Linked DNA regions of Homo sapiens. The protein of the gene in region 1 purifies or fractionates together with the protein of each later gene. This does not show direct contact. Each region holds a gene or a part of one and is shown in the gene's direction. Other genes may lie near its edges. The genes, in order: C16orf74 and PPP3CC.

Region 1 (4,150 bases):
CCTACCCTGAAGCCTCTGAGCTCTTTCTGGCTTTCTAGCCCCTCCCCAGGGATGTGCCCTCAGCAGGGAGCCACCTGCACAGGCCTCCCCCAGCCCAGCAGCTGGGGCAGCAGCTTTGATGGGCACGCCCACCACCCCAGCACCGGCCAGCGGCAGGTCCCATCCTGCCTCCGGAGGGTGGGGACGAATGGAAGGAACGTCCTGCCCCAGGCCTGCCCCTTCTCTTTGTTAGAGGCGGGGGAGTGGGGGACATGATACATTTCCTGCCTGTCAGTCTGGACTCTATAAGGTCAGGGGAACCTAAAGATCGCCCCATTTTTAGGAATGACTCAAGCAGCAGCACACGGCTAGGAAGATGACTCCATTTCCTGCAACTCTTTGCCACATTCACTAAAGGAATGTCACTTTCCTGCTCTGTGACTCAGTTTCCCCTTCTAAGCCTCCAGAAATATATAGGGCAGGGGGTGTGGAGACGTTGGGCTTGTAGGGTGGACAGGGTACCACAGGCTTGTGACAATGACATAGAAAGCACAGGGCAGGCATCTTTCTGTTCCTCCTGCCCCACTGGGCAGGTGTCTGCAGAGGCCTCCACACAGGTAGGGCTGACGGAGGGAGTGTGCCTCCTAAGAAGCTCATCTGGCCAAAAGACCTCTGTGTCCACACCGCGGGGAGCTCTGTGTCCACACCGCGGGGAGGTGGGGGATTCCTCTCCCTGATGCTCATCAAGGTCATCACCAAACACCTGAAGCTGCCCAGGGGGCCAGGAGGCAAGCCCTGACCTCCTTGTAGGCTGCAACCCAGGGTTCGCCCCCGAAGTGGGGTGCAAAGGCTTGCGTGGAGAGCAAAAGGGAACCCCCACAGCTGCAGCCACAGGGAAGGGGCACTGCCTACCAGTCCCTGGGGTCCTGCACAAGGGGAGGGCGGCTGCAGACGGCGAGATGGGGCGGGGGGGCTGTTCTCGCCTCTCCTCTTCGCTTCCGGGCGGCGAGGTCCACTGAACCCGGGCCCCCCAGTATGGGAGGAACCCTGGTGCCCTTTTTCAACACCCAGGGCTGGGGTGCAGGGCCTCAGGGAGCCCGGCACCCAGCCCCGGAGAGGGGCGCACGGTGGGGAGCCCTACGGGCCGCGGCCCAAACTTTCCCCGGGACTGCCCGGGGCCTGGAGGGAGGAAACAGGCAAGCAGCGAGGGGTCGGGACCGCCGCCGAGGGCGCCGGGCGGGTCCTGGCACGCTCCCCAGGGAGGCGACGGGCGGGCCCGCTCCGCCCCGCGCCTGGCCCGTGCAATCCTGGCGCCCGCGGCCCGGCGGCTGCCGTCAGCGCCGCCCTCTAGGAGCGGGGCGGGACCGCGGGAGGCGCGCGGCTGCCCGAGCGCCGGCCGGGCCATGACCCCCGCTGCTCTGTCTTGCAGGCTCGTCGCCGCGGCCCCCCGAGCCCGACCGCCGCCGCCACCACCACCAGCGCCCGGGCGGGCCTCGCGCGCCTCGGGCGCGGCTCCGCAGTGAGCCCACCAAGAAGGAAGCGGTGAGTGCCCCGCGCCTCGTGCCCGCCGCCCCTTCCCCGGGACGCCCGCCTTCCCCGAGCAACGCGGCCCCGGCCGGGCGGCGTCCACGCCTCGCAAGCTCTAGCCGCTGCAGGGGCGCGGCCCGGGGGTCGGTGGGAGACCCACGCGGGCCCGGGCGTCCCCCCAACTTCTTGCAGACTTTGCTGCGGAGACACGGGCTTTGGGAAACTTGGCCCGGCTCTGGCCGCGCTGCAACTTGCACGGCGGTGGGGGTGTGACCCCGCGCGGAAGCCTCTGGCCCCCCACTCACCACAGGCCACCCCGCGCCGTCACGAGTTCCTTGGGAATGGACCAGAACGCCATTCCTGAGAGCTGGAAGGCAGCCCGGCGGGGGGCGGGGGCAGGAGGCCTCCCGAGGAACCATTTCCACTCTATCGAGTATTTCCAAATCTATTATTTATGAACTGCCTCACTTAGGGGCCCCCCTGCGCTCCCAGGGCATCAAAGCAGGTTTGCAACCGCGAAGGGCGACCCGTGTGGACGCACGCGCTCCTTCTCCTGGCTGGCTGCGCTCGAGCGGAACTAGGGGAGGTCTCAGTAAAAAGGGGCACCCGCAGCTCCCCCCAGGGATAGGCGGAGGGCGGGGTCTGAGGGCGGCTGGGACTTCTCTCAGACCGCCTCCGGCTGCGGGGCCCAGATGGAATCAAGGGAAAATCTGTGCAGGCTCGACAGGCTTTGGAGCCCGGAGGAAGAGGGAGGAAGGGAAGGCTGCGAGGCAAAGGCACTTGTGAGGTAGTGCGGTTCTCGGGGAACGAACGCCTCAATGTACAGGTTAGGAAACTGAGGCTCTGAGAGGGATACCCTGAGTCACAGGCTCTGGCGTTTCCTGCCTAGACCCCACCCATCCAACGCTGTGGGGAGGCCCCTGTCCTGGGCTGGGTTAACTCCAAAAAGCACCCTCACCTGTGCAGGCCACGCCCTCCTTGGGTTCTGCGCCCCCACCGCTGGGGACCCGGTCCTGTGGATGGGAGGAGGCCGTGTATTTATGGAAACACTTAATCCCTCACCAGCCCCAAGGAGGCTGAAAGCTCACCACCTAATCTCGTCTCCCTGGAAGCGCCTTCCCATGCCGGTGGGGTGCACCCCAGACCCACGTAGAGTGTATTTTCCCAGCCCAAGGTGCAGGTCACCTCTGGAGACTTGAAATGGGAGCGTGCCGTCAGTGGACACTGAAGAAGAGCGCACTGATAGTTCATGCTTACGGAGCACTCCTCATGCACCAGACCCTGCGTTTTCTGTTTTAATCCCCTGACCAACTCTCCAACCAAATACTGTCAGCCCCATTTTAAAGATGAGGAAACAGGGCCAGGCACAGTGGCTCACGCCTGTGGCTGCAATACTTTGGGATGCCAAAGCAGGAGGAGTGCTTGAGGCCAGGAGTTCGAGACCAGCCTGGGCAACACAGTGAGTCCCCCCAGCTACTAAAAATTTTTTAATGAGCTGGGTGTGGTGCATACCTGTAGTCCCAGCTACTTAGGAGGCTGAGACGGGAGGTTTCCTTGAGCCCAAGAAGTTGAGGCTACAGTGAGCTATGATCACGCCACTGCATTCCAGCCTGGGCAACAGAGGGAGACCCTGTCTCTTAAAAAAATAATAATAAATTAAAAAATAAAAATGAGGAAACAGAAGCTTGTAAAGGCAAAGTCACTGACACAAGGTTACATGGCTGGAAAATGGCAAGGCCAGGCCTGGAACCCTGAGCCGTGGTACTGAATTGCTCTTACCTGCAGTGGAAGCCAGGCTAGGCCTCTGGGCCTGCTAAGTATAATCCCCCATCATTAAAAAGATTAGTAAGTGATGATGGGGCCCAGGCACAGTGGCTCACACCTGTGATCCCAGTGCTTTGGGAGGGTGAGGCACGAGCATCACCTGAGGCCAGGAGTTTGAGACCAACCTGAGCAACATAGTGAGACTCCTTTCTCTAAAAAAAAATAAAATAAAAAAAAAAAAAAAAAAAAAATCAAAGCCTCCCAATCATCTGAATGGACCACTCCCCTTGGCTAAGGGCATTCCAGAGTTAACCTGCAAAGCTAGTTCAGGCCATGATGAGAAGTGGGGTCAGACATGCCTCATTATACTCTCTTGCCTTTTGAAATTGAGACCCCGCAGACCAGCATTAACATCAGTGCAGACCTTCAGACTAATAGGACAGTCCCTTTAAGTCTGATAAGAAACATGTACAATCTGTTCTCTCTCAAGCCAAACTCCTTATCGTAACCCAGACATTCCTTTCTATGGATTCCAGGTCTTTAGATAATAACTCTTTTGGGTTTTTTTGTTGTTTTTTCTTGAGACAGTCTTGCTCTGTCACCCAGGCTGGAGTGCAGTGGCGTGATCTCGGCTCACTGCAACCTCCGCCTCCCAGGCTCAAGTGATTCTCCTGCCTCAGCATCCTGAGTAGCTGGGATTACAGGTGCGTGCCACCATGCCCGGCTAATTTTTGTATTTTTAGTAGAGATGGGGTTTCGCCCTGTTGGTCAGGCTGGCCTCAAACTCCTGACCTCGTGATCCACTCACCTCAGCCTCCCAAATTGCTGGAATTACAGGCGTGAGCCACTGCACCCAGCCCAGATAATAACTCTCTCAACC
Region 2 (4,022 bases), on another chromosome or scaffold:
CTTTAAGATGATTATTTTGGATTCTTTGTCATGCAATTCATACATCTCTATTTATTTAGGGCCAGTTACTAGAGGTTTATTAGTTTCCTTTGGTGGTGTCATTTTTGCCTGGTTCTTTATAATTCATATAGCCTTGCAATGGAGTCTATGCATTTGAAGGAGCAGGGGCCTTCCAGTTTTTATGGACTCGTTCGCCAAGTAAATACCTTCTCCTATTGAGTCCCTGGGTTGATGGGATTGCCTGTGGTATTGTGATTAAGCAGGGCTGAAGCTAGATTATGGGGCTACATTAGGGTTCACAGTCAGTGGGCGTACCACTAGGGGCATGGACAAGTATGTCCCATGGATGGGGAGAGCTGTCTCTGGAACTCAATAGGGTGGGACCCAAGCTGGGTCCCAGGCTGGTTTGGGTTTATGTTTGGGTCCAATCAGCAGCCCTTTTACCAGAGGAATGGACAGGCATGATTTCCACAAGGCCCCTGTTAAGGCAGGACTTCCTCTTGGCCACAGTAGAGCAGGGCTGGAGCCAGGTCAGAGTGCTGCTTTGAGTCTGCAGTTGGGTCTGGTTGGTGGATCTGTTACTAGGGGCATCAACAGACATGGTTCCTTCCCAGGATGGATGAGGCTGGTGGTAGGACTGCAGACAAGTGGGACTGGAGCCGGGTTTACAAGGGACAGGCTGATTCTGGGTCTGTAGCTGAAAGGTCAGTGGGCCTGCCTTCTCCAAGCAGCCCTTCCTAGTCTTGGGCTCCACCAAGGTTTCATAACCACCTACCTCAATCCTAAGGTTCTTACAATGGCACTTATGGCCATGGATGGCTTCCAAACTATTGTTTCTGTAGGAGGACCAGGGCTGGGGACATTCTCTTTTGCTATCTTGCTTACGTCACCTACAACCTACTTTAAAAGTAAATTTGTTCTAATGAGCATAATGAGAAACAAAGATTTTAAAAATAAACTAAATAATTAATGCCTAAGTAATTCCAGGTTAATTTTGTATACTCCAGTTCTTCCTATCAGGTATTTGTCATTCAGAGAGGTAATAGTATGAAAAGAATATTTTAGGAGTATATGAGAATATTGTATCTTTTTTTAGAATATGGTTGGCTAAAATATTTACATCTGCTCCTAAAATATTCCTGCATAAGCTTGCAGTGAGCCGAGATTGCACCACTGCACTCCAGCCTGGGCGACAGAGCAAGACTCCGTCTCAAAAAAAAAAACAAACCTATATATATACATATATATGTATATATGTATTCCTGCATAATATTATCTTGGTGTTTATATTACCTGTGAAGCTGTAAGTATATTCTTTTATTTCTGTAACAATTTGACAATTGAAGAAAAGTATGTGTTGAATTTTTAGCATCTACTACACACACACGCACACACACACACACACACACACTACTGTTGTACTTTGTAATATCAAGACACTGATAAAAGTTTTGGTGTTGTATTGTTATGGATTAAGACAAAAAAATTAAAAGATGAGATGGAGGAGCTCTTTCTATTGTAGGATTATCTATTGTTTTCATGTTTGATCTGTAGTGAAGTATATTAGTGAAATAGAGAAACAGAATGATGAGTACTAAGCTATTCATAAAATTTCAGTAGTGTGTAATACTTGTAGTTTTGAAACAAAATCAGCTAATATCACCTTGACTTTTCCCCATCTTCCTATTAAAAAAAATTGTTTTAATTCTGGATTTATGTTTTCTAATTTTCTTTTCCAGTTACCCTGCAGTTTGTGAATTTTTGCAGAACAATAATTTACTATCAATTATCAGAGCCCATGAAGCCCAAGATGCTGGGTAAGTTACATTAAAATTGTACCAAATATCGCTGCAGAGTCTTTGCATTTAATATGCAGACAGATGGACTTTCATCTCTTTTTCAGGTATCGAATGTACAGGAAGAGCCAAGCCACAGGCTTTCCATCACTTATTACAATTTTCTCTGCCCCCAATTACCTAGATGTCTATAACAATAAAGGTAAAGGAATCCAGCAATATTTGAGTTTGAATTTATGAGTAAACGTGAGCTCTGGTTTAATTGTATGTACGTATGTGTGTTTGTGTCATTTTAAAACATAAATTTTAAATAAGAAAAAAAGGGGTCTTAGTTGAAACAAAGGCCAAGAAATTTAGAATTTATGCTGCTGCTTGGTCTTTATCTCCTAAGGATTACTGGCTTCTTTGTGAGTATAAATAATGATCATAATAGGTCAGATTGATACTACAGAATCAAAGTATAAGAAGAATAAATTGCTTCAGGCTCATGCCAGAATAGTTAGCATAAATTATTGGTTTTGGTGAATTTAATGTGTTTATAACAGTATCTCAAAGTCACCATTGGTATTTTAATCTTTGTGAATTATTAAACTATTTTTGTTTTTCTTGAGATATGGTCTAGGTAGAGTGACCTAGTGTACAAAGTCAAAAAAAAACCTTCATTTTTAGTTTAAACCCTGCCAGAAACGAATACTGTGACTTTGAGTGAGTCACATTATCTTTCTAATCTTCAGTTTCCCATATGAAAAAAGAAGAATGGATATATACATGCCTTTTGTTCCAGAAATTTTACTTCTAAGACTTTATCCTGTTAAAGTCTTTTTTTTAATTTAAAACTTTTATGATTAATAGTTTATAAGTTTTCTATCGAGGCAGTGGTCCTACTAAAAACTTCATATTTCTGTAACTATTTTGTTGTTTATAAAGTATGACTATAAATTAATAGGACTTTGAAAATAAACATGCCAGAACAAACATATCCAAATGAGTATTGTCCCTTCAAAGTAGTTACCTTGGGAGGCTACACACCTATTCCAACAATGCTGTCCTTGTTCAAAAACATTTTTGGAACTCCTCTTTTGGCATTGCCTTCAGAGTCTGCGACACATTCTTTTGATTATCCTCAATGATGGGAAATCTTCGTCCTTTGAGGGTGGATTTGATTTTTGGACAGCCAAAAGTCATTCGGAGTCAAGACTGATAAATAAGGTGAGTGATCAAGCTAGATGATACCATTTGGGGTCAGAAACAAGGTATGATTATAAGGTAATGAGACTGGTTTTTCTCGTGTTGCTGATACAGTGGCTCTGGAGGCACTTCCAAAAGAGGAGTTCCAAAAACGTTTTGAGTAATGGCAGCATCTCTGGATTAATTATATGGTAAGGCAACAAGTTGTGCTGAAAAGAACACAAAGCAAGGAGTCAGTCTAGTCCTGCTTCACTTTTAAGTGTGTCACATTTAACAAGATACTTCTCTGAGCCTCATCTTTAAAATATCTGTCATATGGGGTTGTTGAAGATAAGTTGGAATAAGGAAAATGGATATTAAAGTGTTGTTCAAAATATAAATTACTATAATAATACAGATTTTACTGTTATTGTACCTGATGTGATAATATCAAAGGACCACACTCATCTGATAAAAAGGTCTGGTGTGTTTGTAGCTGGTGGTTTCTTAAGTCTCATTACTTTATAGTTATACCTTGTATATGCAGTTGGGGAGATAAGTTTCAAAGATGGCCAAAATATAATTAATATTTACTCTATTTAAAAGTAAACCATGGAATGGCACATCTCATTTAAATCCGATTTGGGTCAGTCATTTTAGTGTGTCCTCCAGTGACTTGTCTATTTTAAAAAGCATGTCTTTAACTTAAGTTCTGTCCTAGTCTTATGTTTTCATTTAACTTAGCATTCTTCTCTGAGCCTTATCTGTCCTACAATGCTCTGCTTCTCCCTAAGTTCATTTGTTATTTCCTTTTTCCTGATATTTCCAGTATATTAGCAACTTAGGTTTTATTCTTATTTATTCTCTTATCAATGGTGTGGACTGTTTGTGTTGTTAAACGTCTTCAAGGACTCTTGTGGCCCTAGATCTCCTATTTGTAATGAAGGTGTTTCTTTCTCACTTTCTTTTTTAACTTCATCAAAAAGAGTATCTATTGATTGCTCAATGGATTTATCAGTGTGCCAAGCTGAAACACGCCACCTAAGTCAGCAGGCACTA

Evidence for each region.
Region 2: the proteins of C16orf74 (region 1) and PPP3CC purify together in Homo sapiens (affinity purification with mass spectrometry; one large-scale study listed by BioGRID and IntAct). This does not show direct contact.

Annotation. Positions count from the first base shown.
Region 1 is NC_000016.10:85,748,297-85,752,446, reverse strand, and holds the start of C16orf74 (uncharacterized protein C16orf74), read left to right. Parts: upstream 1-1,350; 5' UTR 1,351-1,521; intron 1,522-4,150.
Region 2 is NC_000008.11:22,520,752-22,524,773, forward strand, and holds part of PPP3CC (serine/threonine-protein phosphatase 2B catalytic subunit gamma isoform), read left to right. Parts: intron 1-1,739; coding exon 1,740-1,817; intron 1,818-1,903; coding exon 1,904-1,998; intron 1,999-2,891; exon of another isoform or gene 2,892-3,005; intron 3,006-4,022. UniProt on the Homo sapiens protein: Calcium-dependent, calmodulin-stimulated protein phosphatase which plays an essential role in the transduction of intracellular Ca(2+)-mediated signals. Dephosphorylates and activates transcription factor NFATC1.